Linked DNA regions of Homo sapiens: region 1 is linked to region 2. Evidence: fine-mapped QTL for protein levels in blood plasma. A gene starts in region 2. The other region holds a variant in brackets. All regions are shown on one strand. Distances are from middle to middle. Region 1 holds the start of ANO5 (anoctamin 5). Region 2 holds the start of CSRP3 (cysteine and glycine rich protein 3).

Evidence for each region. A credible set is the group of variants that fine-mapping cannot tell apart. PIP is the posterior inclusion probability: the model's chance that the variant is causal. Protein levels are from antibody-based Olink assays in UK Biobank. Linkage for the fine-mapping came from a reference panel and not from the study's own genotypes, which makes the PIPs less certain.
Region 1: its variant is the best candidate, but not a certain one, in a credible set for the plasma level of the CSRP3 protein (UK Biobank, PIP 0.57).

The regions. Positions count from the first base shown.
Region 1 is chr11:22,192,608-22,209,302 of GRCh38, forward strand. ANO5 (anoctamin 5) reads left to right here and starts at 478. Exons shown (of 22, transcript NM_213599.3): 1 at 478-925; 2 at 11,197-11,243. The coding sequence starts at 886. RefSeq lists enhancers at 1-15, 46-115, 766-855, 1,106-1,295 and a silencer at 296-345. The variant T/C (reference allele first, on the strand shown) is at 4,451.
Region 2 is chr11:19,195,432-19,212,126 of GRCh38, forward strand. CSRP3 (cysteine and glycine rich protein 3) reads right to left here and starts at 6,552. Exons shown (of 6, transcript NM_003476.5): 1 at 6,523-6,552. It overlaps CSRP3-AS1 (CSRP3 and E2F8 antisense RNA 1), which reads left to right and starts at 1,282. Exons shown (of 6, transcript NR_183675.1): 1 at 1,282-1,488. RefSeq lists an enhancer at 10,954-14,665.

The DNA of each region.
Region 1 (16,695 bases), 3.0 Mb after region 2:
CTGGGAGAGGGGTTCTCTCCGAGTGGCACGCATGAGCGGATCGATGAAGACCCGGCCAACCGGCTGAGGGAGCATCGGGACCCCCTTTGGGGATCGGAGGAGGAGGATTCCGACAGGAGGGAAGCGGCAGCCCTGGGGAACCAGGATTCCTGGTCGTGGGTGGACCCAGTGGAAAAGGACGTGCGAAGCCTGTACAGAATGGAGCAGGCCGGCCAACAGGGCCGGGGGGCGGCGGGTCCCGAGGAGGGACGGGAGGCTGCATGTCCGGAGGAGGTGCGGGAGGCGGCAGAGCAGGGACCTGGGGACGGCTTGAGCGGAGAGGAGGGGGCCAGCGTGGAGCCAGCCGGGCCGGGGGGCGGGGAGATGGCGGTCTCCGAGGGTGGGGCGCCGGCCGGTCTTGCGGTCTGGAGGCGGGGAAAGAGGCGTGGAAACAGGGACGCAGCGAAGGGGAAAGGAAAGCTGCCAGAGGGCAGGAGTGGAAAGGATCCTGGCGAGCACCGGGAGGAGTGGCGGCTGCGGGATCAGCTGCCGAGCAGGCACAGGGACAGGTGCCTGGAGAAGTACTGGGAGAGCGCCCAGGAGCGCTACCGGCTGAGGGTGGGGAAGCGCAGGGCCAAGCGCGCGAAGCAGGTTGTGGGGGACCGGGTCGAGTGGAAGTACCCGCCGGAGAGGAAGGCCGGCTGGCTGTGGCGCCCAGAGACGGTGGAGTCCGAGGAGGAGGAGAAGGAGGCCTGCAGAAGGAAGAGCAGGCCCTTAGAAGTCCAGCAGCAGCAACTCCGGCGGCCCACAGTCAGATTCAGCACCTGCCTCAGATCTCCACGTCTGTCTCAGCTGCCCCTCTCCTGCTGCCTCTCAGGCACCAGTGCCATTAACGAGCTGGCGAAGATGGGCGACCCGGATCTCCTGGAAGTGTTGGCGGAGGAAGGTAGGACCGCGCCAAGAGGCGTCAAGGGAGAGCCAGGCTGGCTGCCTGCACCCCTCCACCCGCGGCGCAGAGGCCCCGGGGGACGTTGGCGGCCCTGCGGCCTGAGTCCTAGGGAGGTTCGCTGCGTGGCGTGCTCAGCGCGAAACCGGGACTGCGGGGCAGAGTCCCCCGCCTGGGGTGAGTGGGGTTGGTTTCGGCGCCCCACAGATTTCTCTGCTGCTCCTGCGCGCCAGGGACCTGCGACCTGTGACCCCTATGGTTCCGGAACACCCTCCTTGCTCCCCTGCAGGCCTGGGAACCGCCGAGTAATTCAGGGCTGCTAGGCTAGCGCTGCAGTGCTTGGGTCTCCGAACCCAGCCAATGGAAACGAAGGCTTTCCCAAAAAAAGCAGCAGTATAGAGTGCAAGACAGCTATCCCACGTGTAAGGAGCTGGTCCTTGAGTCTTATTACCTCACTCTCTCTGCCCGTTACTTATCATGCTTTGAGATGCTTGTTAATTGTAGGAGTAGCAGATCCTAAAATCTATCAGTTTGAGATACTGAGAGCCATAGGCACTTGGAAAAGCTGCTGCTGCTGCTGCTGCTGTTGCTTTTCAACAGCTTTCATTAAGCCCTTTAGTTCCGTTGAGAAATATTTATCCATTGTTTGCCAAAGCCTTTACACCACCTGTATTCCGTGGACCTATTTTAATACATGTATTTTCCTTAAAATGCACATACTATTTTGCTGCTATCTCCAGGACCCCAGTTCCTTCAATGATATTTTATTTTCATGTCTTGTTTAGTGTTGGATTTAAACACAGAAACAGTTTTCCAAAGTGACAAAAGATCTGATCATTACTATTCAGTCTTCAAAGGCACCGGGAAATACCGTGTGTTACTGCATCCTCCTCGTTCCCTTTTTTAAGCAGCTTTATTGAGATATAATCTATATACTGTAAAATTCACCTATTTGACGTGTAAAGTTGGATTTTTTTTAGTGTATTTACAGAGTTTTGTAACTATCATCATAATCTAATTTTAGAACACTTTCATCACCCCAAATAGAAACCTCTTAGGCAGTCACTTCCCATCCTCCCCACTTCCTACCAGTAATCTCTTTATTGTCTCTATAGATTTGCCTATTCAAGACCATTCGAATAAATAGAATCATACAACATGTGGTCTGTTGTAACTGGCTTCTTTCTCGTAGATTAACGTTTTTGAAGTTAATCCATACTGCAGCTTTTATCAGTGCATCATTCTTATTAATTGCCAAATACTATTCCGTTGTAGAGATATAGCATACCTATCCATTCATCGATGGTAGGATTTGTGTTATTTCCACTTTCTTTTGCTTCTATGAATAATGCTGCTATGAACATTGATGTATCAGTTTTCATATGAACATATGCTTTTATTTTCCTCGGGTATATATCTAGGAGTGGAATTGCTGGATTATGTGGTAGCTTTATATTGAACATTTTAAGAAACTGCCAAACTGTTTTCCAGGCATCTGCATGTTACCTTCCCATCAATAATGTATGAGGGTTCCAATTTCTGTACATACTCACTAACACTTGTTATTGTCTTTTTTATTATAGCCATCCTAGTGGTTGTAAAGTGGTATCTCAGTGTGATTTTGATTCTATTGTGATTTGATTCTACTGACTAATGTAGCAAGTATTTTCATATACTTATTAGTTATTCACGTTTTTGGAGAAGTGTCTATTCAGATCATTTGCCTGTTTACAAAAATTTAGTTGTATTTTTCATTATTGAGTTGCAAGAATTCTTTATATATTCTGAATACAAGTCCCTTATTAGATATATGATTTACAAATATTTCCTCCCATTCTGAGTGTTATCATTCTATGTTCTTAATGGTGTCAGTTGAAGCATACCCCCCTTATTTTTTTTTTTTTTTTATTTTTTGAGACAGGGTCTGGCTCTATTGCCCAGGCTGTAATGCAGGGGCATCATCTCTGCTTACTGAAACCTCTGACTCCCAGGCTCAAGCGATCCTGCCACCTCAGCCTCTGGAGTGTCTTGGACTATGGGTGCTGCACCACGACCTCCCCAGCTAATTATTATTTTTTTTATGAAGATGGGGTTTCACCCTGTTGCCCAAGTTGGTCTTGAACTCCACAGCTCAGCTGATCCACCTGACTTGGCCCCTCAAATTGCTGGGATTACAGATGTGAGCCACAATGCCCAGTCACACTCCCCCATTTTAAAAAAGGGCCTTTGTAATCTATTTATGCTTACATGTGATCCAAATTGTGCCTCTGATTAGGGTGGAGGTGAGAGAAATAGATATTGATGAGGAATACCGTATATTTGATGGCTGGGACTAATTACTGCATTCTGCCCAAATTCCTGTATCTAGATATATTCAAAGAACCAGAACCCAAGCATCAGGGAAGTGTGGCATTGATGAGATCAGGGCCTAAAGAGCAGCATAGTTCAGGCCACTCATATGACTCGTATATTTTTAGATGTTTCTTAGCATGTCAGTTCTTTTGCTGGTTTAGTTTTACTGCCCATTATTGAGACCTGTGTTCTTATTAGGTATCTTAGCCTACTTTTTTTTATTGCTATAACAGAATACCACAGCCTGGGTAATTTATAAAGAAAATATTTCGCTTTTGGTTCTGGAGTCTGGAAAGTCCAAGAGCATGGTATTGGCATCTGACAAGGACCTTTGTGCTGCCTCTTAACATGTTGGAAGGTCAAGGGAGCACATTAGACCAAGAGATAAATGTGTCCAAACTTATCCTTTCATTAGGAACCCAATTCTAATGTAACTGTTGCACTCCCATGAGAATGGCATGAATTCATTCATGAGGATGGAGCCCTCATGACGTAATCACCTCTTCAAGGCTCTACCTCCTAATACCATTACAATGACAGTTAAATTTCACCATGAGTTTTGGAGGGATATTTAAACCATAGCACTAAGATGTATGAAAAGTTCATTGTTATGAGAGTTTTTTTTTTTTTTTAATGAACATTCCAGTGGATTTTTAGAACTCTGCTTCCAGATATATTTTCTCTTGGATTTAAATGACACTGTTGGCTGGGTGTGTTGGCTCACGCCTGTAATCCCAGCACTCTGGGAGGCCGAGGCAGGTGGATCATTAGGTCAAGAGATCGAAACCATCCTGGCCAACATGGTGAAACCCCATCTCTACTAAAAATACAAAAATTAGCTGGGTGTGGTGACATGCACCTGTAGTCCCAGCTACTCGGGAGACTGAAGTGGGAGAATCCCTTGAACCTGGGAGGCGTACGTTGCAGTAAGCCAAGATTGCGCCACTACACTCTAGCCTGGTGACAGAGTGAGACTCCGTCTCAAATAAATAAATAAATAAAATAAAAATAAAATAAACGACACTGTTATGAAAACAAAAGTGTTGGCTGAAGAAGGCTGAAAAATTCAAGTTCCAGAGCATCAATTTTTAATAGCTACTTTCATTTCTATGTTTTAAAATATAAGAAGACTTTTTAGACTAAATTTACCCATATAGGTAAGCCTTGATTTTG[T/C]ATGTGCTTTCTAAATCACCTTTAAATACTGAATATGAGAGTTAATTTATAAAATTGATTGTAAGAGAGACAACATAACATTTTGCCTTTTAGACTTAATAGATCTAAGATTTATTACATCTTCTCTACTTTTTTCACAATTAAACACATGAGGAATCAGTGATCTCCAATTGGCTAATTTCCTACTATCTTCTAATTTTAAAAATGAAATTCTAATGGCAGAAGTTAATAGAGCACTTAATTAGTTACATAAACAAACATTGCCAGTAAAATGTCATTGCTGGAATTTAACTTTTTTTTTTTTTTTTGAGGTCTTACTCTGTTGCCCAGGCTGGAGTGCAGTGGTGTGATCATAGCTCACCATAGCCTCAAGAAATGTTTATGCTTTAGCTGATTTATGATACAGTTGGTATTGGAAAAGACAGTTTGAGACTTTAGCATTGGAAAAGGCAGATTAAAACTTGAACGTTAGGTTGTTTGCATCTTTACGGCTATGTTAAGCATTGTGTCCAACTAAGCCATCCGTCTTTAGTAATGTTAATATTTGATTAGAAATATTTTATTTTATACTGCTAGTAAGAGTGTAAACTGAGAAGACCAGTTGGTAAGTACAAGTGCTATTTTTGGGCTGTGGATTTGCTGGAGTGTGTATTCTTAGTCATGTGCTTTCAGTGAAAACTCAAGACTCAGTCTTTAGGCTGGCTTTACTTTTGGCAAGTATTTGATGATTCTCCACAGTGATTGGTACCAAATCTTTCATATCCCTGGAATCTAGCCCGCAGGGAGAGTATAGTGCTATCCATTCATTTTAGAGGAAGTTGGAGGAATAGAAAGAAGCTGACAGAGTTGTTGGCTTCAAATCCTGCCTCTTCAGTCAGGCCTCAGTTTTGACAGAGGTTTTGGTGATTATGCATAGTCACAGCATCTTTATACTCCATGAGGGAGTATGAAAGTGTCTGAGTCTATGGTCTGTGTGAACATCTAATTGCAAGGGTGCATACATGTGAGAGAGCTAGCGAGCAGTAAGTGTGCAGGGGTGAGAGGGAGCATGGTGTGTGTGGAAGTAAATCTATCCTCTTGAATGTCCCGATGTTTCACAAAAGGATGCAGTTGACAAAATGTGTCTCTGTTGGTTCTCTGGAGCTGACAGTCTTGTGGAGGGATGTGTATTTGAGCTAGGTGTCCAGAGAGGGCTGCATTCAAGGTGGTATGGGAGCAGGTGGGAGGCCAATCCAGGGGACAGTTGAGGTTTCAGGCAAGGCCTGAAAGGAGGAGGTCTAGGCTGATATAATGTGAAAAATAAGCAAGAGTTAGAAAGGGAAGAAACAGTGTTAGTTCTAGAGAAAGAAAGCTGTAATTTTAAAGGTTAAAGTGTGAAAGGAGAGCTAGTAATAATAGGAGGTAATCTGGGGGATTCATATTGTCCCTTTTCCACATTCTCAAATAAATGCATCGCATCAAATTTTAATAGCAGCTTGAAAATATTTTTTCACCTACTTGTTTTATGTTAAATGGAACAAAAATAATTAGGAAAAAGAGGGGCTAGTGTTTGCAGTTTTTCAACTTTCTTTTTGTAAAAATAGAATTGTAAAACTCTTTAAACCTAGCTTAAGGTTTGCAGTTGCTTGATTGTTCTGTGATTGGAACTATATTTTGTTTGATGCATTGTTCTTTGGCATAATAGTGACTGTTTTTGTCCTTAAAAAAAAGCCTCTCTAAGTCAATGTTAACTATCATATCTTGAGACACAAGGCTTGTATTTCTTAGAATCCTATTCTTTATCTATTCACTGTAAAGCCATTCTAAATTGGTCTCCTTTTCATTCACAGATCTAACGAGAGATGATCAGGATCAGGATCAACTGAGTTTTGAGCTATGTGTTTAGGCAGTAATCATGGGTAAAACCCATTGATGATAATACTGCATGATGTTTAATATTTTTCAAGCATTTCCCTTTAGATTTGTATCTTTTACATGAGAAAGCCTGCACTCAGAAAGTTAAGTGGTATAGCTATAGTTGGTTAGTTTTCATGTTTTGCTTAGAGTAAAACATTTTAAGAGCAGATCCTGCAACACAAAGATCTGAATACAGAAGGAGTTATTTCGATTTTATTCTGACATTCTGAAACTTAGCCCAAGGAATTTACAGCAGTTTTGAAGCTTAACAGTAGAATAGAATAATAACAACAATATCAACAAGAATAACACCTGCTTACCTCCTATATGCCAAGTACATGCATTATCTATTTAGTGCTTACACAAACATTATGAGATAGACATACCACTTATGACAGCTGAGAGCTTTGAATTTATGTCATACTCTTGCAATGGATGCTAGGAAATGTTTTGTTTGCTTGAGTACATTACTACACCATATAATTGAGGTTCTATTAGCAAAGAAGGAGGAGGAGGAGGAAAGATATTTGTCAGTAGCCTGTAGCCTCTGCTGTATTAGTCACCCACCATTAAGTCTTTCCTATTTTATTAAAGGACATCTTCTCAAATTTCTCATGCTTAGGAGTCTTCTATTTCATCTTAACATAGTTTTATGAAAATAGGTATATTTTCTAAAACAAAGTAAATTTAGTGATAAGAGTGCATTGTTCTACTTTAAAAAAAATCTCTTTGATCTCTGGCCTGATAAAATATAGGTATTCTCGTATCTGCATTACATTCACTCTGTTGTGATGTGTTGTGTTTTGGTTGAAGTGTATGAAAAAAATCTGGCCTCTTAGAGATCTATAGTTGAAAAGGGAGGATAATTTTAGAAAGTTTTTGAATAATTATGGATATTCTTCTCTGATTTGCCCCCAAATTCAACGAATAATAGGTTCTTTAAAGTTAGATATAATGTAGAATTTGAAACCATTGAAATGAACTTTTATTTCACTGCTGCATTAAAATCTATTGGTCTGTCCTTCACTTTAAATGTATCTTTTTCTCATGCATGGTTTTGTAACATCATGTATTGCTTATTTGGAAAACAATTATCTACTGAGTTATACAGATCTTCCAAATGCTGACATATTTCATTTTAAAATACCAAAACGTAATGCTAACATCATCACTGATCTTATCAGGAATGCCTTGGGAATCTGTTAAGCACACAGTGACGGTCATAAGTTTACAAAAATTATTTCATTTGCAACTCAAATTTTGTCATTGGCAATAAATACTGTCAGGTGTTTTCCATGAAGTGATAGATTCATGTCATTAATGTTTGAGGTAATATCTGACAAATAGTCAGGTCTGTATGACTCTATATGTTTTCCCATCATACTTTCAACTAAAATGGTGTTTTATGAAAAATTTAGCTACTTTACCTTGCAATGTAAAGTACTTTTTCATGAGGCAACCATGGTACTTTGGAATGCAGCATCAGCGCTTCATGCATTCTTCCTGTTTCTTTATAGATTATTAAAAATTTGTGTGTTCAGGGTCAAGATTTTATAAACTTCATAAGCTTTACTGTTTATCAAGGACATTTTTAAGTTAAACTACATTTTTGTTTCTTTTTGTACTGAGAGTGCATGATGGTGGAGAATATAATGACTACTAATATAGTCTGGTGCCATAGCCTTGATTCACATGATGGCACCAGCAGTTTTATCCCATTGTTTTTGCATCACCAGTGCAAACGTCAACAGAATGAAAAAGACAAATATGGTTTTAATATTATTATAAAACTTTAAATACAAAATAAAATGTATAAATTTGACACATACAAAAAGTAAAATAAATTGTATCTTGATGGGGGATGGCAGACAGTACTTTAAAATTGCTGATATAGGATTTGAATTATCACCTAGAAGGAGAAGTTGTATGGGTGTGTTTTGTATGGGTGTGTTATGTATGTGTGTGAGTACTGTTGTCTCTCAGTATCCACAGGCATTGGTTTCAGGATACCCCACTGGTACCAAAATCCAAGGATGCTCAAGTCCCTTATATAAAATGCCATAGTATTTGCATATAACCTATGCACATCCTTGTGCATGCTTTAAATCATTGCTAGATTACTTATAATATGTAATACAAAGGAAATGCCATGTAAATATTTGTTATACCTCTTTGCACAGTGCCTGGTGCATGGCAAGTTATCATTATATTTTGGCTTTTCATTTGCAGCCACAGTGAAAAACTTGGCTCCCTTGTCAGCTCGCTCATTCAATTTTTCAATAAATGTTTATCAGCCGTCTTTCATTTGCCAATCAGTGTGCTAAAAGAACAAAATCAAAAATTGTGCTCACTTTTCAGAAACTTATCTTCTTTTGCGGATAAAAAGATAGTAATTAAAATGCACAAATATTCGTGTAAAATTGAAACCCTGACAAGTGCAAATAGAGATATATCAGATGCTTTGAACTAGCCAGATATGTGAAAGAAGGCTTCCCTGGGGAGAGAGTGACTTTCAAGCTGATATCTGAAGGATGTGAAGAATTACCCAGGGCAAGGTGGGGAGAGAGAGAGTGTGTTATTCCCTTTTGTGCTGTTATAACAGAATACTACAGACTGGGTAATTTATAAACAATAGAAGTTTATTTGGTCCATGTTCTGGAAGCTGGGAAGTCCAAGGTTGGGGACCACGTCTGGTGAGCCCCTTCTTGCTGTGTCATAACATGGTGGAAGGCATCACTTGGTGAGAGAGCATGCACACATGAGATGGCCTAACTTTCTTTCATAACAAATCCATTCTTGCTATTACAAATCTATTCCTGTGATAACAGTGCTAATTCATTTATGAAGGCAGAGCACTCATGACCTAATCACCTCTTAAAGGGCCTACCTCTCAACATTGTTGCATTGCAGATTGTTTCTGACACATAAACTTTGGGAGACAAATTCAATCCATAGCAGAGAGCATTCCTTACAGAGGAATAATTGTGTGTTAAGGCCCCTCAAAGAGGGAGAATGGAACTGAAAGAAGGTATAAGGATCTGAAAGGAGACTAGTGGGCCAGACTTAAGAGCGTGAAAGGGTGAGGTTGGAGAGGTTGGTTGGTTTTAGTTAATTTTAAAGAATTTTATTGTTTGCCAAAGGCAAAAAACTCATATCAAGAATGACCCCATCTTATACTAGCAAAGCTATGACCCATAAATCTGCTTTTTAAAATAAAATAAAATTATAAATAAAATAAAGCTTTCTTACAAACCAGTGTTTATTTTCACATACAGCCTCGTTTTAACCAATGTACAGATCAAAACTCAAAATATTCCTCTGCAGAAAACTTTGGACTTTATTCCCTAGCTGACCTATAATGGTTGAATTTCTGTCAAGTATAAATTTATGTATATAATGGGCTTAATTATTTAAGAGAATAACTGAGGGATTTGTGTGATCTTTGAAAAGGAATTGGACTGTCATACTTGGGTTGTGAAAAAGCTATACAAATGGTAGATTTTTTAAATTTTTTTTTGACTTATACAATTGCTTTATTTTATTATTTTTTACTTATAAGAACAAGCATTTATTTCTCACAGTTCTGGGTGCTATGAAGTCTAAGATCATGGTACTGAACTCAGTGTCTGGTAAGGGCTTGTTTCCTGGCTCATTAATGCCATCTTCTTACTGTGTCTTCACATGATGGAAGAGGGAAAGCAGCTCTCTGGAATCTCTTTAATAAGGGCTCTAATCCCATTCATAAGAGCTCTGCACCATGAGCACATTCAGACTACAGCACCTGAAATACTTAGTGTTTTTTGGCTTTGTAGACACATCATTCTGATTTCTGCTTTTATCTTCACACTGCCTTCTTCTGTGCCTCTGTTCCCTCTTCTTTTCTTAGGAGGACATCCATCATTGGATTTAGGGCCCACCTTAAATCCAGTATAACTTCATCTCTAGATCATTAACTAATTACATCTGTAAAGACTACATTTCCAAATTAGGTTTCAGTCTGAGGTTTGAGATGGACATGAATTTTGGTGTAGGAGAGACATTAGTCAACCCCTACAATAGGTCAATATCAAGTTTCCATATAATAAAGTGTCTTGTTCTGGGCTCTCTGTTCAGTTTCATTCGCCAGTTTTTCTATCGTATTTCTAAAATTATGGTCACTAACTTGAACTTAAAGTGCTAACATTTTATGTGGTTCCCATTGTGATATTTTCTCCAAAAAAAATATATAGGAAGTTTTTGACTTAAATATATCTTAGGGCTTTTTCAAGTTGGAACCACTAGAAAATAAGAATTTCAGTTCTGTATTTAACTTTTTTAGTGTCATAAACTTACTTGAACATGTATTTTAGTGCAAACGACTAAATGCATTACCATTACGGAGCTATCTGTATGTCGGGAAAGTACTCTGGCCTGTGTAGAAACTGGTAGTGTTCTATATACAAGCTGTCTGGTTTGATTTCAGGAAAATAAGGTGAGAGAATATGAAATCTCATGTGGTGAGAACTAAAACATATGAATGGACACCCTATTGGGTATTTAACTCTCAGTGGTTTTGTGGTTATAGGTTGATAACCACATTGATCAGAGTTAAGTTTATTTCTCAGTAATTGAGATTGTATTTTACACATCAGTATTTTATGCTTTTCCTGTTATAGGCAGTTTTAGGTAAGACTTCTTTTGGAGTCTGTTTTAAACAATTTAGCTCCGAATCATCTTGTATCTTTTCTTCTAGTATTTTTTCTTTGAATTTTTTAATTCATTCAATTCCTATTTTTTCCTTACACAGACTTTTGAATATGTTCTGATCAGTGGCTAATTTAACATGTTTTTCTCTTTCTTATTTAATTTAGGGGAAAAAGTCAATAAGCATATAGACTACTCTTTCCAAATGAGTGAGGTAAGTTAAATATATATGCATTAACTTCCTTATAAGTCAGAATAAAAAATCAAGATAAGGTTAACTAAGCCTTTGTACTTATTTACTTATAATACATTCTATTATGCCCTCTAATTTATTCATTTTTTAAGTAGCTAAAGCAAGTTCCATGTTCCATGCAGATTTAATATTGGATCTTTTCTAGATGTTATAAGGGAACAAATAGATCTTTGATTTGTTTTGAGGCTCCCTGTGAAATAAACTCAGATATGCTGATCATTGATATGCAAGATACTAGTATTTGGCTTAACATTTTGCTATAATATAATGTTAGTGTAGTCTGTGATAGCTTATTATTTTACAGTTATTAGTATGATTAGTGCTTATCTATGACTATACTGGAGTTCAACCTGAATTGCATAAACACATTAAATAGAATAATAAATAAATTAAATACTACTTGTAAAAATACAGAATTCTTTTAACCAAAGGACTTCTTATATAAATTTTAAGAACCATACAAACAATTTATATTGCTTCTATACTGAATATAAGCATGTTAAAGGCATTTCAATGAAATCATTTTTCTGATAGACTCTAGTTGATAAAGAATCCCATGCATAGCTCTCACAGAGGTAGACGTCCTTGAGTGGTTTCAGGATGTCCTGCCAGATATAAACAGGATTTAAAAAGAATTTCCAGGAATGATTGAAATTTCTGCTTGGAAAACACGTCCTTCTAGAATAGGTTGGCTATTTGCTAGTTGGCTGGATAAGCTCATTAAGATTCCTAGAAGTTACAGGGTTCCTTTAAAAGTTCAGTGACCCACTAGTCAGAATGGCTATTGTTAAAAAAATCAAGAAATAACAGATGCTGGTGAGGCTGTGGAGAAGAAGGAATGCTTATACACTGTTGGTGGGAGTGTACATTAGTTCAGGCATTGTGGAAGATGGTGTGGCAATTCCTCAAAGACCTAAAGATAGAAATACCATTCGACCCAGCAATCCCATTACTGGGTATATGCCCAAAGGAATACAAATCATTCTTTTTTAAAGACCCATGCATGTATATGTTCATTGTAGCACTATTCACAATAGCAAAGACATGGAATCAACCTAAATGCCCATCAATGATAGATTGGATAAAGAAAATGTGATACATATATATCATAAAATACTATGGAGCCATAAAAATGACAAGATCATGTCCTTGGCAGAAACATGGATGGAGTTGGAGGCCCATTACCTTTAGCAAACTAATACAAGAACAGAAAACCAAATACCCCATGTTCTCACTTATAAGTTGGAGATAAATTATCAGAACACACAGATACATAGAGGGAAACATCACACGCTGGGGCCTTTTGGAGGATGGAGGGTGGGAGGAGGGAGAGGATCAGGAAAAACAACTAGTGGGTATTAGGCTTAATACCTGGATGATGAAATAATCTGTACAACAAGCCCACATGACATAAGTTTATGTATGCAACAAACCTGCACTTGTATCTCTGGACTTAAACTAAAAGTTAACAAAGAAAAGTTCAGCGACCTAAATGCTGAGAGAAACAGAATATGAGAACCAGAGGGAACTATGAAGATCATATAGGACAGTGATTTTATAGTGTAGTTTGCAGATCAATATACAAACAAGAATAAGAATTATATGAAGAATTTCTTAAAACTGTAGACTCTTGGGCCCAGGCTGTCTCAAAATAAAATAAAATAAAATAAAATAAAATAAAATAAATAAAAGGAAAGTAGAGCAAAACAACCCCAAAGCAAGTAGAAGAAGGAAATAATAATAAAAGCAATTGAAAACCAGAAAGTATTAGAAAAAATCATTGAAACCAAAAGCTGTGGAAAGATACATAAAATTGACAAACCTTTAGCCAGACTGGCAGAAAGGGAGTTGCGCTGGGACATATGTAACCAATATCGGGAATAAAGCAGGACATATCAATATGGAATTTGTAGATACCAAAAAGATAATAAAGGAATACTACTAACAACTCTACACACATAAATTTGACAACTAAGATGAAACGGACCAATTCTTCAAGAAGCACAAACTACTATAATCCACTCAACGTTAAAACAATAATTTGAATAGCCCTGTAGCTACTAAGTAAACTGAATGTGTAATTTTTAAATTCCCCTGAAAGACCTCTTCAGGCTTAAATGGTCTCATTGGAGAATTCTACCAAATGTTTAAAGAAGAATTAACATTAATTTTATACAATCTCTTCCAGAAAATAGAAGAAAAACAGATGCTTCTCAATTCATGTCGGATCCCTACGTAACTTTGATACCAAAAGAGACAGACAGTTTAAAAAAAAATGAAAACAAAAAACCTAAAAGTTGGATCCCTCATGTACATAGATACAAAAATCCTTAGTAAAATATTAGCAAATAAAATTCAGTAATATAAAAATAATTATGCAACATGGCCAGGTAGGGTTTACTCTATTGATGGAAGGCTCCATTCATTTTTGTGTGCGTGTGGAAAGGGACAGAGTCTTGCTCTGTCACCCAGGCTGGAGTGCAGTGGCACGATCTTGGCTCACTGCAACCTCCACCTCCCAGGTTTAAGTGATTCCCCTTCCTCTCCTGAGTAGCTGGAACTACAGGTGTATGCCATCACACCTGGCTAATATTTATAATTTTAGTAGAGATGGGGGCTTCACCACGTTGGTCAGGCTGGTCTCGAACTCCTGACCTCAAGTGATCCGCCTACCTTGGCCTCCCTAGGTGCTGAGATTACAGGCTTGAGCTACTGTGCCTGGTCTCCATTCATTTTTTGAAAAACAATTGGTATACTTCACCAAAGGCTAAAGAATAAAAATCATGTGATTTTTATCAGAAAAAATATTGTCAAAATTTAACTTCCATTTATTAAAAATAAACACAAACTCTCAGAAAACCAAGAATAGAGAGGAACTATTTTAACCTGATAAGGAGCATCCACACAACACTTACACTAACAGTATATTTAATAATAAAAGACTGAACACTTTCTTCGTAAGATCAGAATGTCCTCACTTACCCTTCTCATTAAATATAGTACTGACAGTTCTTGCAATAAGACAAAAAAATAAAATAAAAGGTATTCAGATCAGAAAGGGACAAATAAAATTCTCCCCATTTCCAGGTGACATGACGATGTACATAGAAAATCCCAAGAAATCTACAAAATTAAAGACAAAAACAAAATTTCCTAGAACTGAGTTTAAGAAGGTTGTAAAAAATAAGAAAATTATATAGAAATTAGTTATATTTCTATATACTGGTAATGAGAATGTGGAAACCCAAATTGGTATATAAGTTAAAATATCTGTATGACATTTCATAGACATAGGCAAGATTATTCAGAAAATTTTATGGAAATACAAAGGAAGTAGAAGAGATAAAATGATTGTGAAAAAAAGAAGAAAGTGGGAGAAAACCCTCTATGTTATTTTAAGACTTGTTCTTTAGCTGCAGTCTAATGAAGACTGTGTGATATTTGGAGAAGGATAGGCATGTAGATTAATGAAACAGAATAGAGATCCCAGAAATAGCCTCACACAAGTACAGCCAAATGATTTTGGACAAATGTGCAAAAGCAGTTCAATGGAACAAACAGGCTGGAGCATTTGTATATTCATAGGCAAACTTATGAACTTAACCTAATTTTATAACTTATACAAAATTAATTCAACATTGATCATGGACTAAATGTAAAATGTAAAACTATACAATTTTTTGAAGAAAAAATGGATCAAACTGTTTGGAAATTAGATCTTGGTGAAGGGTTTGTAGTTATGTCATATCTGCAAACAAAAACATTATTAATGAAAAGCATTGATAAATTGGAGTTTATCAAATGTAAGAATTATTGTTCCCTGAAAGATCCTGTTATGATGATGAACAGACAGGCTACAGACTGGGATAAATATTTGCATATTCTGTATCAGACAAAGTACTTGTATCTATGATTTATAAAGAACCCATAAAATTTAAATATTTTACAAGAAAAAATGCCCAGTTAGAAAGTGGGCAAAATACATATTGAGATCTTTCACTAAAGAGGAAATATGATGGCAAATAAGCATATGAAAAGATCTTCAATATCACCAGCCACTAAGAAATGCAAAATAAGATCAAAGTGAGATGTCAGTATATGCCTATTAGAAGAGCTAAAATATAAAATAGTGACAATACAACTTACTAGTTAGGATGCAGAGAAACTAGATCTCTCACACAATGCTGGGGGAAACATAAAATGATACAGTCACTCTGGAAAACTGTTGGGCAGTTTCTTAAAAATCTAAATTATGATTTTCATGTAAGTTGGGTAATCATACTCTTGGGCATTTATCCAGCAGAAATGTAAACATATATTCATACGCAAAACCTAAACACAGATATTCACAGCAGCTTTATTTGTAGTAGCCGAAAGTGGAAACAACCTAAGTGTCCTACAGCAGGTGAATGGTTAAACAAAGTGTGGCACAGCCTTATCATGTAAAACTACCCATCAGTAAAAAGGAACAAACTATTAATAAACACAACTTGGATAGATCTCCAGGACATTGTGCTAAGTGGAAAAAAATCTTAAAGGAACACATATGTTATGATTCCATTTTTATGACACTTCTGAAATGACAGTATACAGATGGAGAACAAATTAGTGATTTCTAAGGGACATGGATGTTGAGGGGAAGGAAAATGGACATAAATTTAAAAGGGTAGCATGAGGAAGATCCTTGTGGATGGAATAGCTCTATACCTTGACAGGGCTGGCTCTTACCCAATTGTACACACGTGACAAAATGACCTCCAACTATACAGAGACATTGTACTCATGTCAGCTTCCTGATTATGATATTTTACTGTGGTTATGTAAGATGGAAATAACCATTGGAGGAGACTGGGTAGGGGTTACATGGGATCTGTGTGTATTATTTTGGCAAATTCCTGTGAAGCTATAGTTATTGCAAAATAAAAAGTTAAAAAAAGTGAATACAACTTATTTCACTTTCCTCAATGCTAAATTATATTTTTTCTGACACTCAAATGCAATAAAAACAGGCTCTACACATTGCAGTCAATTTTTTTCACCCCATCTATGGGCAGGAGGCAGGCAATTTTCAAAAAAAATAAGTATTATAGCATATTCATTCAACTATTGGATTGAGGCAGAACTAGAATCAATGGATTTTTATCCAGTAACAAATTTATAGATATGATGAATGTTTTTAGGCTTTTACAAGACAGAAGTATAAGAATTGTAGGTTCATTATTTCAAAATTATTTTATGTTTGAAAAGGTCTTCTGTGCTTTCATGATTGCTTAAATATTAAAAAGCTATTCTAGTTTTACCTCTGATTTACAATTAGTATGAGTCCATCATTGGACATTGTTACAGTCTTGTTGGAAATCAGAAAATGCATGTGAATTAAACATGCATGACATGATTAATATATTTATTACAT
Region 2 (16,695 bases):
AAGAATAGACTCACATAATTTTGCTCATGTTCATTTTGATCCTGAGTTTCAGCATGATACAAAATAGAGGAGAAATATAATAAATTTCCTCCAGGAACATGGCAGCGACACTTGTAAAATTAATGATATAGAAATTTTCAATGAAAACAACCTTAGGTCAAATTTCTCATTTCAGATTTGCAGTGGAGATTTCATTGGCATGTCTTGCAAGTTAATAGGAGACAGAGATACCTCTTGGGGGATAAAAATACATATATATCTGTGTGTGTGTGTGTGTGTGTGGATTCATTGCCTAGGCATACTTTTCAAAATGAGAATAGGATTACAGATAATACCTCCTTCACAAACTAATGTATCCTAGCACTGGTTGTTTTTAAGCGATCATAAATATCTGACATATATCATCAGGACTTGAAATTTAAAATATAAATCTGTAAGTACTCTATTAATGATGCTCAGTTCCATTTCTGAAGATGGGAATGTAACCATGGAGGCTAAACAGAAGATGTCTCACAGGCCAAAAGGTAGAGGATATTTTAAAGCATCCTGAATCCAGGCCAGGCATGGTGGCTCACGCCTGTAATCCCAGGACTGAGGCCGAGGCGAATGGATCATGAGGTCAAGAGATCAAGAACATCCTGGCCAGCATGGTGAAACCCCATCTCTACTAAAAATACAAAAATCAGCTGGGCGTGGTGGCATGCACCTGTAGTCCCAGCTACTCAGGAGACTGAGGCAGGAGAATCACTTGAACCCAGGAGGTGGAAGTTGCAGTGAGCTGAGATTGCGCCACTGCACTCCAGCCTGGCGACAGAGTGAGACTCCATCTGAAAAAATAAGTAAATAAATAAATAAAAAGGCATTCGGAATCCAGAGACATGGATTCTAATCTCGACCTTGAACTCGGGTAAAAAATGTTGATAATAGTATCTCCTGGGCAGGACCATTGTGAAGGTCATGGAAATATGATGGAATTTAAAGCAGTATTGAGAAATTATTTTTTCCCACTTCACTTTAGGTTACTCAAATGGCACCAATGTGCTAATTAAGGAGCTATGATTTGAAATCCCAGTTAGGTCCTGGCTTATGAACATAACCTTTTCAGCTTCCCGCATTGCTTTGGAATTCTTGTGTCCCAACACTCCCCTAGACACTCCCAGAATGTGAGCTTACCCTGGCAAGGTACCAAGGGATGGGCCATTTGTTTATCAGCGTTGCCTGGTACTGGCAAGGGTCATTGAAGGTGGGATACAATTATAGGCTTGCCCGTCACTCGGCCCTGTTTGTAACCTGGGTCACAATCTCCATCATACCACCTGGCACGACTCTCTGGGCCAGTCCCTGAGATGACTATGTTGTCAAAGACAAATCGTGGGTCAAGATTGAAATGGGGGACAGTCTGGAATTTACGAGGATGAGATAGAATGGACAGCCCTGTGACATCAACTTGGAAGAGGTTGGACTCCAGATTTGGATACTCAGATCCCGGTGAGAGACTACCTTGTGCCCACTTTTAAACTAAGATGTAACTAATACCATAGAAGAGATTATACTAGGAATGTGCTTCAGTGGGGCAGTGGGAAAAACACTGGATCAGGTGCCAGAGGCTGGAGTTCTAGTTCCATTTTGCCTCTTCGAAGCTGTGTGATCTGGGAAAACCGTTCAATCTCTCTGAACTTCAGTGTCTTCACTAGAATGAGGGCAATAATCCTTTTGATTTCACTATTGCTGAGAGGACCCTATTAGTTCAAGTACTGTCATATCATTCTGTAAATTGTAGAGTAATATAAAATGTGAGAACCAATTAGGTTCTCCCACAATTTTAAGTTGTTATTCATCAATCTGAATTTTCAAAAGAATAACTAAACTGTGTATTTTGGGCACATTCTTCCTAATCCAACTATTTCTCCCTCCCTCCCTCCCTCCCTCCCTCCCTCCCTCCCTCCCTCCCTCCCTCCCTTCCTTCCTTCCTTCCTTCCTTCCTTCCTTCCTTCCTTCCCTCCTTCTTTCCATCCTTTTTCCTTTCCTTCCCTCCCTTCCTCTCTCCATCTCTTTCTCTCCCTCTTTTCCTCTTTCTTTCTTTCTTTCTTTCTTTCTTTCTTTCTTTCTTTCTTTCTTTCTTTCTTTCTTTCTTTCTTTCTTTCTTCTTTCACTACCAACTATAAAGCTGAGCAATGATGAGTTAGGGCAAAAGTGGTGGGTACATAAAATGAGCACCCAGGAGGGAACTTTAGGCCATGACTTTGGGCAGAGACCTCAAGCCACAGTGCCACAATGCCACCGTTTTCAGCTCAGTGCTAGCTCAGTTGGTCATCCTACTAGATGCCTGATTTCCTGCAGTGAGTTCAATTGTCTACACTGGCTGAAGCAAAGATTTTGGATCATAGGAACATATATATATATATATATGGAATCTAAGCGATAGTAATAGTCATTTCTAACTTTATTATTGAAGTTAACATGCCTGGAGCACTGCCCTTGGGTATCGTTTAATCTTCACAACAACCCTTCAAGGTAGGTGCTATTATAACATTTACTTTACAGATGAGGAAATGGAGGCTTTGGGAAATTACATTAGTCCAAGTTCATGGGACTGATATGTGTCACATGAATAGATTGGAACTTACGTTTCTCTGACTCCAAAGCTTTACATATATTATTTTATGTCAGTTGCTTTACATATATTATTTTTTAATACTTACAACAGCTGCCCAGAGCAAATTTTATTTCCATTTTTATGGATAAGAGAACTGAAGAGCTTAAGTAGCTTTTCCAAGGTCACACAGCTAGTAATTGGAAGAGCTGCCATTTAACCCCCCGTTAAGCTGGTTCTGTATCTCATGCTCCTGTTTATAACACTGGAGAGAGGACAAGGGTCAGCACCTCCATCACCCAGACTTCCCAGTTGATGGGAATTGAGACGTGACCAATCCATTGTCTCTCCATGGGACACAGAGGGTATTCAAGGGTGGGACTAACAGGGAAACTGAATTCATTCACTGAAATCAATGACTTTCTGAGTTACGGCTGTTCAACATGGAAAGGGCTTCCTTGGAACTGGAGATTTCTTCTGCACTATTGATTTTCAGCTGAGGTGGGGACGGATGTCCAAGTGGCTGCTATACAGTGAAGTCCCTTCAAGGGTCCTTTAAGCCCTGAGACAGATTTAAGGATCTGAAAAGTGATTGAAACCTCACTTTGCAGAAAAGCTGCCCAATGGGGTGCCCTCTCAAACCCTCTCCTTTATTCACTCTTAATTTGGGTAAGAAAGATGACATAGCCACAGTGAAAACCATGGGCTTTGGAAGAACCAAGCTTAAGTTCAGAAACACTAACTGTTGAACACTGGGCAAGTTGCTCAAATTCTCTGACCCAGTGTCCTCAATGCATGTCCTCATGTAAAGACAATATGAGAAGGCTTGTCTGGGAAGGTTGTTTTCAGGTTAAAGAAGATAATAATAGCTAAGACACCATATAGAATTACTTAATACATAGCAGGAATTGAATAATTGTAGTTACTTGCATCATGACTATTATTGTTGTTATTACATTATCTCCAGTTTTCAAGTCTGTTCTTTTAGAACAAACAACTCACTCCCTGCTTGTTTTCCATGGCCCTTCTGGTTCAGACTGTGAATCAGCTTTGTTTTTCAGCCTTTGGAGTGTGCGGTGCCCCAGGACAGGTGTGCCCAGGTCGGGGTGAGAGTCGGTCCCCTTGCGTTGTTGGATTGGGTTGGAGGCAGCATGCCTAGCCAGGGGCCCTGTAGTCTGGGGAGCTCATGCCCTTCAGTTCTCGGTGTAGGACATTCAAGGTCAGTGGCTGCTTCCTCCTGAGCTTCTGAACCCAGATATATGACGTCCTCCGGCCAGAGGCCCTTTCACAGAGCCCAGGAAGAACAGGTTGCTCATTGCCAGCATGGAAATAAACCTGAGTGTTGGCTCTCAGCCCCTTTTAAACTCAGACATGGTAGACATACATTAAATGAAGGCTGTAGAACATGGGCATCTTACACCTTTTGTGAAATTATATCTGAAGCGTGGCCAGCTTTTACTTCCCAAAACTCACTCTTTGTTCTATTTTGACCTCTACAATTTATTTCTAAAGACCACATCATATCCCAGTTTACCTCCTGGCTCTGCCGCTTTCTCAGCCATGTGATGCTGGGCAATTCCTAAGCTTTCTAGAACTTTAGTTTCTTCCTCTGAAAAATGAGTTTTGCATAACTTTTTGTGACCCTTAAATAAGCTAGTACTCGTTCCATGCCTGCCTAGGCCATAAACGACCATCAAATCATGATCAACCCTTTCCCACAGTAAAGCTCAGAAAAGGCTCCATCCTCAATGCCCTTTAAGACCATTACTGTCTCCCTTCCTGCCATTCTTCACTGGGATGAATAACTGCAGTTTTTCACATTTGCAGGCATCACATTTCTCTTTGTGCATGAAGCCCAACCCTCTATACAGTATTTATTCACAGATATCTGAACAGCACACTTGTAACTGGAAATCTGTCTGCCTCAAGACTTGTATTTCCTGTGTGTTATATTCCTAGCCCTGGGTCTTTCCTCTTGTAAAACAAATTAATTATCTTCTAACTCCTGGTCAGCTTCTTACCCACTCTGACCTCTGGACTTTTATCAGCACGCTTGTACTTAGCAGGAAACCCCCCCAAAACCCACTGGGTTTGGCTGTATGCCTTTTCTCAACGTTCTCACATATTTGTACGGTTATATTAAACTTTACAAAAGTACTTTCCTATACTTTATCTCATTCAATTCTCACAAGTCCCTTTGATAGAGGTAGGCTACCCTTAGTTTTATTGTTCAGAAAATGGAAACTCAGATAAGTTAAGTGATATTCAGAGCTATAATTTGAACGGGCTCTATAACTGATTATCTTTATTTTCTTCTTGAATATCCCAGGATTTCTGAGTTTCTATTCTATCAAGATTCTGTCTCCACTTCCTCCAAGGGAATTTTGGCTATTTGCTGGCTGAATGCTGCTGCAGCTCCCTCTTCCTTCATTCCTCTCTTCCTCCCTTCCTCCCTCCCTCCTTCTCTCTTTCCTTCCCCCCTTCTCTCCTTCGAAGGAGGAGGCCCCTTGCCCTGTGTCTCCTGTTTCTGATGGATGACACGTGTGTCTGGGCTGCAGAGCACCTGTCTGCCTGAACCCCAGGGAGGACACAAAGCCCTGGGGCTCAGCTACACCTCCTGCCCAATAGCCTGGGCTCATTGCCACTGACCACAAACGACTGAGTTGTTCAGAAAGGGAACAAAGCCAAGTCATAAGACTCCCTCACATTTTCTGGATCATAAAGCAGTTCTACATGCATTGTGATGAATTGTATGTACCCAGCATTGAGATTTAATCCCAGATGTAAACTGAGGACACAGGCCATCCCCAATTTCCCACTCTTCGTGCTGTTCACTTATACCCTTCCCTGCATAGAGCTGCCTCTACCTCCCTCCAGCCCTGACATAGGAGATGGTCCATACATGCTTATTAAATTACATTGAATCGTATTGCAGAGACAAGGTTCCTCAGACCAGTAACTCAACTCCTCCTTCTTGGAGGAGTCACCACCTTGGCTCAGGAACAGGGCAGAAATTAGAGTCGGCAGCTTGGATCTTTCAGCAGCATTTCCACTCAGACCATTGCTTAAAACCTCTTCTTATTCTCAATCACACCTATGTCTGTCATTCACTGGGATATTTTAAAAAGTCCTTGACTAAAACCTAGAGGAAACAGTGGGAATCCTAACCACTGGATAAATTATCCTCCCATTTAATAGAGCTTTTAATATATTTCAACATAGCAATGTCTTTTTGGGGTCCAGTTTTGATTAATTTCAAAAGATTAAAAGCAAACTTGTTGCTGAATATCTTTGGGATACAAAAGTCTATTTAAAATCAACAAGCCCAAAATCTCAGTCATTCACCACGACCTTTTGAATAACACCATTCCAGGTAAATTGAGCATGGGAAAGCTGTCTTATATATTGCATCTAGTACAATCGCTTATCGCTTTGTATCTGTGCAGTACTTTACAGTTTGGAAAAAATGTCGCCAATTTGTATTGATCCTTGCAGAAGAGGAGACCAAGCCCCTGAGGGCAGGAACCTTCTCAAAGTCTGTCATCCATGAATTATATGGTGGTTGTAAGACGAGAAGGTCAGCAGACTTTCCATTATTTCCTCCCGCTTTCCAGTTGTTCCAACTAAGATGACAGGAAATGTAATTCCACCACGTAAGTAGTTTTATAATGAGGATAATTCTTTACTCATTTATCTGCCTATGAGGTCCCTTAAGCCCCCTAAATATTAACCATCCTTGCAGGAATTTTTTAATACCTGCTAGATCCACACCAGAGTCAAGTACAACTTGAGCCTCCTTGCACAGAACCAGAGAGGGTGCTGGCACTTGAGACGTAAAATGTGCTCTTACTCTATGGGACCCTTTATAGTCCAAACCAGCCACAGAACCAACCCACCTCCAGCTCAAATGTCTGCCTTGCTCCACTCACCTGCCTGTGTGGACTCCGTTCAGCTCAACTGAGTCTGAGGGGCTCTTGTCCTCTTTAAATATATGAAGGCTGTCACCAGCCTTGGCCTGCTGGGGGAAGGGCAGGAGGGAGGCCAAGGGAGAGGGTGAATGAGACGTGAGTAACACAACTGCTATCAGGGGCTGAAAATAGACTGTGACCAAAGCCCTGAGTTTTGTCTCCCCCAACCCCCCAGCCAGCTGTGAGCCTCTTGGAGAACCGAATCACTTGGGTTCTATTTGCACTGCCAATTGCTTATGGCACCAAGGGATCAATTTATGAAGTGTGTCATTTCTGATCAAGTGGTTGGAACAGGAACAAGAGCTAAGGGTTTAACATCAAAAATCATTTCTCCAGGCCCCCACCCCACTGACCTTCCTGGAAATCATTGCAGGGTACCTGCAAATGAGTCATGTGCCATATCTGGGAGCCTCTGGAACTTAGAGCCACAGGTCACCACACTCGTGAAGAGAACTCAGAGCTAAAAATAAGGGTGATGGGTGTCTGAAACGATACTTAGATAATCTCTTCAAAGAAGCTTGGGAGAAAAAAGGTTGGCACATCACTTGGGACCTGTCACTCCATCTATCCTAGGAAACGAAGTTTTCTCTAAAAAGTTTTGATTTACTTTGTTATTATCCTTTTCTATTTAAGAATTTGATACAGCAGTGCATATTTATCATCATCACATTATATTTATAACATCTTGATATGTCTCTGTAGACCCATATTTTCTTTGGAGGTCTAATTTTTCTTTGTCTGGAATTCACACCGTTTAAATTTGATCAAGCACCAGGGACTGATATAAATTATGGCATTGAAAAGCTGACAAGAGGTTCAGAGATGTGAAGACCAATTCTTCATGTTATAGATGAGGAAACTGAGGCACCAAGCCCCTTCCACTCATGTTGACCCGGATGTTGAGGTAAGGTACATGTAGAACCCAACCGGGAGGTTCATGATCCAGCCTTCACATCAGATATTAGCCCTTTGGTTACCTGCCCACAAAGCAATTGTTGAAGGATAGAATATTTCACTGTCAAGAAGGTTGCAGTAATTTCACAAAGACGGCCGTGGCATAGCCTCCTATGAGATATCCGTGGTCTGTGTTTTCACTAAATGGCATCTTCATCATAAAGACGAGGCAATCACGAGGATTTTAGAAAGTTAAAGCTAGAAAGGACTTTAGAAATCGTCTAGGATAGTGGCTTTTGTTTGTTTGTTTGTTTGTTTGTTTAGAGAAATGGTCCCGTTCTGTTGCCTAAGCTGGAGTACAGTGGCATGATCACAGCTCACTGCAGCCTCGATCTTTTGGGCTCAAGCAATCCTCCTGTCTCAGCCTCCTGAGTAGCTGGGACTATAGGCGCACACCAGCACGCCTGGCTAATTTTTTTGTAGGGATGTGGTTTCACCATTTTGCCTAGGCTGGTCTCAAACTTTGGGGTCAAGTGATCTGCCCACCTCGGCCTCTCAATGTGCTGAGATTACAGGCTTGAGTCACTGAAACTGGTCAACCAATAGTAGCTTTAAAATTTTTTTTGTGTGTGTGTTTGCATCAGAATACTTTTTTCTGTAGATAAGAGGAAAATCAGTATATAAAGCAGATAAAAGAGGAGCTTCCAGTGATGATGAGCATTTTTTCATGTGTCTTTTGGCTGCATAAATGTCTTCTTTTGAGAAGTGTCTGTTCCTATCCTTCGCCCACTTGTTGATGGGGTTGTCTGTTTTTTTTTCTTGTAAATTTGTTTGAGTTCATTGTAGATTCTGGATATTAGCCCTTTGTCAGATGAGTAGATTGCAAAAATTTTCTCCCATTTTTGTAGGTTGCCTGTTCACTCTGATGGTAGTTTCTTTTGCTGTGCAGAAGCTCTTTAGTTTAATTAGATCCCATTTGTCAATTTTGGTTTTGTTGCCATTGCTTTTGGTGTTTTAGACATGAAGTCCTTGCCCATGCCTATGTCCTGAATGGTATTGCCTAGGTTTTCTTCTAGGGTTTTTATGGTTTTAGGTCTGAGAAATGCAAATCAAAACCACGATGAGATACCATCTCACACCAGTTAGAATGGCGATCATTAAAAAGTCAGGAAACAGTTGCTGGAGAGGATGTGGAGAAATAGGAACACTTTTACACTGTTGGTGGGACTGTAAACTAGTTCAACCATTGTGGAAGTCAGTGTGGTGATTCCTCAGGGATCTAGAACTAGAAATACCATTTGACCCAGCCATCCCATTACTGGGTATATACCCAAAGGATTATAAATCATGCTGCTATAAAGACACATGCACACTTATGTTTACTGTGGCACTATTCACAATAGCAAAGACTTGGAACCAACCCAAATGCCCAACAATGATAGACTGGATTAAGAAAATGTGGCACATATACACCATGGAATACTATGCAGCCATAAAAAATGATGAGTTCATGTCCTTTATAGGGACATGGATGAAGCTGGAAACCATCATTCTCAGCAAACTATCACAAGGACAAAAAACCAAACACCGCATGTTCTCACTCATAGGTGGGAATTGAACAATGACAACACATGGACAAGGAAGTGGAACTCACACACCGGGGCCTGTTGTGGGGTGGGGGGGGGGGGGTAGGGATAGCATTAGGAGATATACCTAATGCTAAATGACGAGTTAATGGGTGCAGCACACCAACATGGCACATGCATACATATGTAGCTAACCTGCACATTGTGCACATGTGCCCTAAAACTTAAAGCATAATAAATAAATAAATAAATAAATAAATAAATAAATAAAGAGGAGCTTCCATGCATAAGTTGGAGTTGAACAATGAGAACACATGGACACAGAGAGGGGAACAACACACCCCAGGGCCTGCTGTGGGGTGGGGGATGGGTGAGGAGAGGGAACTTAGAGGATGGATCAATAGGTGCAGAAACCACCGTGGCACACGTATGCCTATGTAACAAACCTGCACACTCTGCACATGTATCCCGTTTTATTTTTTTAGGAGAACAAAGGAAAAAATAAAGTTATAATTAAGCATTAAAAAATAAAAGGAGCTTCCTTGCTTGAAATGAATGCTGCACTTTGACCGTCACGTCTTGCCCTCTTTGCACATTCTGAACTTGCCTTTACACACCTCCCCACAACATGATGTGTAGTTTCAGTTTTGGATTGTAATTAGTTTTGTTCATTATGGGTTAGTACTTACTTAAACCTAATGATAAATTTTAGTGCTTTCTTCACTCAATTACTGTTTTGTTATTGTTGTTGTTTGTTTTTTGAGATGGAGTTTTGCTCTTGTCACCCAGGCTGGAGTGCAGTGGCGCAGTCTCAGCTCACTGCAACCTCTGCCTCCTGGGTTCAAGTGATTCTCCTGCCTCAGCCTCCCAAGTAGCTGGGGTTACAGGTGCCCACCACCATGCCTGGCTAATTTTTGTATTTTTAGTAGAAACGGGGTTTCACCGTGTTGGCCAGGCTGATGTCGAACTCCTGACCTCAGGTGATCCAACCAACTCAGCCTCCCAATTACTGTTCTTTATTTACTTTTTGTACCTTACATTTTTAATTCTGTGTGTGTGCATGTGTGTGTGTGTGTGTGTGTGTGTGTGTGTGTGAGGTAAATCATTCTCGATGAATTCATTGAGAGAGTCTGCTGTAAACTTACTGAATTATCACATAATGTAACAAATGCCATAGACAGGCTGGTTTAAACAACAGAAACTTATTTTTGCACAATTCCAGCAACTGGAAGTTCAAGACCAACGTGCTGGCAGGGTTGGTTTCTTCTGAATGTAGATGGCTGTTTTCTCTCTGTATCTGCACACGGTCTTCCTTGTGTATCTGGGTCCTAATTTCCTCTTCTTACAAGGACAGCAGTCATATTGGATTAGGAGCCACCCATATGATTTCATTTTAACTTAATTACCTCTTTAAGAACCCTATCTCTAAATACAGTCCCGTTCTGAGCTACTGGGAGTTAGGACTTCAACATACGAATTTTGGAGGGACACTATCCCGCCCCTCATAGTCTTCATTTTGCTTTCACTTGAATGCTAGTTTGGTTAAATTTAGGAATCTCTATCCAAAATAATTTTCAGTCAGACCTTTGAAAACTGTCTTCAATTATTTTTAGTAACGTACATGACAGTTTGGTGCCAGTCATATTCATGTTCCTTTATTGACTTGTCTTGTTTCCTCTAGAAACTTTCAGGATCTTCTCTTGAATTTTATGACAATTTCCTGTGTTACGGCCTTTTAAATTTTATTTTGCTTGAAATTTAGTGGATGAGTTCAACTTGAAAACTCACTTTTTTTCCTTTAGGAAATTTCCTTTTATTATTTCTCTCATTAATCCCTCCCTATATGTAATGTTTCCTCTTGCTGAAACTCTCATTAGAAGTTAGAATTTCTTTGTCCTTTTATGTTTATTAAGGGAGAATTCCTTAGCTCAATCTTACATGGAACTAATTTGCATTTCCTCCATGTACATTCTGCTCAGCTCATCTACTGATTTTAAAATAATTACATTTATAATTTTTAAGATACCTAATTTTTTCATATAGCCCATCCTTGCTTTATAAATGACATATCATCTTGCATCTCTCTGGGGATATTCATTATACTAACTTGGGGGAAGTCTTCTTTGTTTGCTCTATCAATTATGTTTTCTTGGATATTTGTTCTTTTGTGTGTTGAGTTTGGTGTTTCATCTTCATAGTGCTGGTTTTTCAACTATATTTGGGATTTTTGGATATGTGTTTACCATGTCATTTGAGAATTTCTGTTTTCCTTTTGGTGGATACCACCTCTGATTAAAGGAGCTTTCCCGCAGGGACTGTGGGACAGGGATGGAGCCTGCTACCAGGTGTGTGCAGTGGCGGTGTGTTTCCTGGGTGTGAGCTGTCCCACTCTCTCTGGAGGTCACTGGTTCTATGGGGAGTTCCCTGGGATTTCTGGCCCCTTAGTCTGGAGCCACACTGGAAAGTGAGGAAAGCTCCTAGCCCTGGACCCATCTTCTTATCCATCACCCTTGTGATAGCCCAGGGTGCCTTCCACTCTGCATGTCCCAGGACATGCAAGTTTGGGATGTCCCAGGACAGCTCCTGCCTCGCCACACGCTGCTACACTGCTGTGGCCAGGACTTCTCGCTCTGTTAATCCACAGCCTTCTGCTTTCTCTCTGGAATTCTTTGAAATTTCTCACTTGTTAGTGGACACTTCTTTTTATGGTGTTGTTTTCAGTGTTCTCTCTAATTTATTTTCTTTTAAATCACTTTCTGGAGTTCTAGGGTCTGTCAGCATTCTCCAGCACTGTGCTGTCCAACACAGTAGCCATAACTGCACGTGGCTATATAAGTTGAAATTATTTAAGATACGTAGAATGTAAAAGTCAGTTTCTCAGTCACAGAAGCCACATTCCAAGTGCTTAACAGCCACATGTGACTAGTGCCTCCACAGTGAAGAGGATAGCTACAGAATGCTTCCATCACTGCAGAAAGGTCTCTTGGACAGCACTGCTCTACATCTTCTGAATCTGAAAAGTGAAGAAATTCCTAAATCCCTTTTGAGATGCTATGAGGAATAGGTGACAGTAAGCCCGTGTTGTGCACACAGCAGGGTGCTCAATCAGTACAAGCTGAACGTCCACTCAATGGCAAGTGAATTGGTGGTGCTGGGACTGGAACCTGCTGTTTCTGCCTCATTGTTCCCAGAATTACCATAAACAGGTGAACCATTGAGAAACAGAGGGCATGAAGGAGACCAGGCAAAAGCGTGAACCAGGACAGTGAGGGCGACCTGAAATCACATGCCTTAAAACACTGCCTTTATACCCCAAATCAGAAAAAGAGAGCTCAATTAGAAACAGTGATTTATTTAATCCTCACAAGAACTTTGTCAAGAAGGCATTATTATTCTTCCCCTGGTATGAATGAGGAATGAAATAAATGCAGTCCATGAAAATGAACTAAATCTCTTACGCCACACAGTTAGGTCAACGGGAAATTCACGGCGATGTTAGGACCAGTATCCATTGCTTCCTCATTCGTATTCCTTAGGATAACTAAAAATTAGTAAGTCAGGGGGAAACACACATCACAAAGGTGATGAGGAAATTCAAACCCAGATCTAACCCAAAACCCTTCCACAACATGGTTCCAAAATGTGTTTGATTATGGTCCCCTCATAAAACATTTTTGAGCAATACACACGTGCACAAACACACACACAGTATAAAACATATTCACAATGATGCACTAAAAAGATATTAAATAGAATACAAGTCTCAATCTTTTGTCTCATACTCTAGCATTATTTCTCATGTTTCCTAGGGGGCTCCCCACCTCCTACTTTGAGAATCACTGATCTAAACCATGCCACATAAAAGAGGGAACATTTTGTGAGAGGGACTTGCAGGCTTGGGAATCTCAGCTTCCATCTGCTCATCTAAACCGCTCTGAAAAGAAACATAATTGGACCATAATGTATTCAATGTCAGCCACATTCTTTGAGTAACTAGGGCTTTTCACTATTTCTGTGCACCAGTGGTCTGATATTTGTCACTGGCTCTTATTTCAAAAAGAGAATTAACTCTAACCTACCATTCAGAGGTTGCTCCTGACCATGCGTTGCGTCTGTGAAAAGCATGGAAATGGGCAAAGCAACACATAAGTGCATCAAGATGGTTCTTTTTTTCCAAGAAATAATAACAAATGTCATCTTTACTGAAATGAAATGAGACTTGATGAAACAAATGGCTCATTTATTTACATCATCCAGATTTTTAAAAACGGGCCTCCTTATTTTCATGGCCATTCACTGCTTGCTGTGATAACAGTGTTTTCAGCTTAAAAGCACTATGATGTGTTTGATTCTCTCTTGGGTGCAATTTCTCTCCTCTGTGTCCCTTTATCTCTGTTTCTGCCTCTCTCTGAATCAAAGGGAAGATATAGGTGTTATTATCCCCTTTTTATAGATGAAGAACTTTGTTTGAGAAGTTAGGTTACACAGCTAGTATATGGTAAAGTCAAACCTTGAACTCAGATTCTCTGTTCCAGAGCCAATGCTCTGATGGAAATTTTAACTAGTAGAATTGCTTTAGTCAGAATTTGATCTAGTTGGCATTATGTAGTTGGGAGAGAGGACAGGGTGGGGCTGAGCACCCACATAGCCAACGTACCAGCTTAACTTTATCTTGCACTGAGAGATTAGCAGGGTTTTACAGAAACAGTCCGACAGATTCAGAAGAGGCTGTGCCTACATTTGCTATTCAGCTGGTACAAAGCCTTTAGGAGAAGCCTGGAGCAGCACAAGTCCCCAAAGTGGGTATCACATGGCCAGCAAATCGACAGAAGTAAATCAAATTGCAGAGGTTCAGAGTGGATCAGTGGGATTGTCTTAGGAGGTGTTTCCATGGGCTGTGTAGTCTTTATGACTCTTCACCTGTGTCAACAACAGGCACTTCAATGTCTTTTGAATTTAGCCCTTCCTTTGTGCCTCCTCTTCTTATTGCCCCAGTTCAGATGTATTGCCTAGACTTTTTCAGAAGCCCCCCACCCAGGTTTCCCACTTCCCTTCCATTTGTTACACCACCACCAGAGTCATCTTTCAAAACCTGGATCTGATGATGGCACCCTTCAGCTCGCAGACTTCTGTTAGTGCCCCCTTACTATAAGATCATGTTAAAAATTTTGACATCATTTTCAAATTTCTTCATCTTGCTCCAGATTAACTTTCCCACTTCTTCTCCCACCATCCCACTTTCCTTTATCCTATCTACCAACCTCTTCAGTCTAATCACTGTTCTCCAAAAATAGCCAGTACTTTCATGCCTCTACGCTTTGCTCATGCTCCCTCCTCTGCCTGGAATGTCCTCCGCCTCCTTCACCTCCTCCCTCTGGTGGAATCTTCCTCATCCTTCAATAAACAGCCCAAATGGCCTCTTCAGGGGAAGCCTCCATCCCTAACCTTTCCAGGTAGGATGTGATACTCTGCACTGGGACCTTAAAACATGCTCTCATTATGGGGAACTTTGTCTGGTTGTATGCGTGTCTTTTTGGATCATTAGATGGTGAACTCCTCTGTAAAAAAGAGAGCATCTTATTTGTCTTTGGGTCCTCAATGCTAGCACCTCGTAGGCATTTAGAAGTTGAAGTTGAATTTATTCATGTAGCTGAATAATTTTGAGAGGTCTTGAAAGGGCTACATTCCTACCATATCTGAGATAAGCTGCAAGAGATAAAGCACAAATTCAGCAAAAAACATTTACTTACTTAAGTCTATAGCCACTCCATCTAAACATAAAGATTGGATGCATTTTTATAATAGCTGGGAGCCTTTTTTTTTTTTTTTTTTGGCTTTCCCAATAAGTTTGTGCTGTGTCTATAGTGTAATAACACTGGATTGGAATGAATAGTTATGGGTTTCTAGTCTTAACTTTTCTATTAATTAGCTGTGTGCCCTCTGACAAGTCAGTTCTCCTTTCTAGTTCCTTACTTACAGAATATTCGTGTGAGGCAGATGATTCCTAAGGTGCTCTCTCTCTTTTTTTTTTTTTTTTTTTGAGACGGAGTCTGGCTCTGTCGCCCAGTCTGGAGTGTAGTGGCGCGATCTCGGCTCACTGCAAGCTCCGCCCCCCAGGTTCACGCCATTCTCCTGCCTCAGCCTCCCGAGTAGCTGGGACTACAGGCACACGCCGCCACGCCCGGCTAATTTTTAGTAGAGACGGGGTTTCACCGTGTTAGCTAGGATGGTCTCGATCTCCTGACCTCGTGATCCGCCCGCCTCGGCCTCCCAAAGTGCTGGGATTACAGGTGTGAGCGACCGCGCCCGGCCGGTGCTAATTCTATAATTTGATAATTCTTATTTTCCAGTTAGGAAAACTAAGTCTTTACTTCCCTTGGAGCATGATGGAGCTTAACCAACAAAGGGTAAACTTTCTACATTGTCATAAAAACATCTTTGTCCTACTATGACCCTATTACCAAAAAATGTGGGTATTAGAAATGGTACACGGTATTTTATGAAGTGAGAACTCCTGATATGGGGAAAAACAAAAACAGAAAAAGGCAGACGCAGCTAACAACCAAAAAAACTCCTTATTGCTAAAACATCAGAGTTCTGCTCCTTTAAAGTTGGAAGGCCTCACATCAGGAGAAGAAAAAGACCTCAGAAAGATTAGTTGATCTTTTGTGTTCACAAAGACGAAGGAGTTAAGTCGTCAAGCCCCCCCGAAAGATGGTTTGGAGTAAAAGGAGAAGATGCTTGCATGTCGAGTTTAAAACTCGGGTCCTCGGGGAATGCATTCTACAAAGTGACACAGGTCCAAAGAGAATCAGAATCTTCAAGGTGGTGTGTGCAGCGGTGTCACTGCCCCTTAATGGATGCTGTGACAATTACCCTTTATATAAGAAGAGATCTGAGAGTCCCCCAATATTCTGAAGTGCTGTATTCCAATTTCTTAAAGATAGTCTTGGTCGGGCGCGGTGTCTCACGCAGGTAATCCCAGCACTTTGGGAGGCCGAGGCGGGTGGATCACCTGAGGTGGGGAGTTTGAGACCAGCCTGACCAACATGGAGAAACCCGGTCTCTACTAAAAATACAAAATTAGCCGGGCATGGTGGCGCATGCCTGTAATCCTAGCTACTCAGGAGGCTGACGCAGGAGAATCGCTTGAACCCAGGAGGCGGAGGCTGCAGTGAGCAGAGATCATGCCATTGCACTCCAGCCTCGGTGAAAAGAGTGAAAGTCCATCTCAAAAAACAAAACAAAACAAAAACAAAAATATAGTCTTTATATTTTAGAGCAATTTTAGGTTCACAGCAAAACTGAGTGGAAAATACAGAGTTTCCATACATCCCCTGCTCCCACACATGCATTGCCCCGCCCACTATCAACACTCTGCACTGGAGTGGTACATTTGTTGCAATCAATGAGCCTACAATGTTACATCATTATCTCCCAAAGTCTATAGTTGACATCAGAGTTCACTCCTATGGTTGTTCATTCTGTGGGCTTGGACAAATGTATAATGACACGTATCCACTATTATATCATCATACAGAATAATTTCACTGCCTTAAAAATCCTTTATGCTCCATCTATTCATCTCTTCTCCACTAGCCTCTGTCAACTACTGATCTTTTTACAGTCTCCATAGTTTTGCCTTTTCCAGACT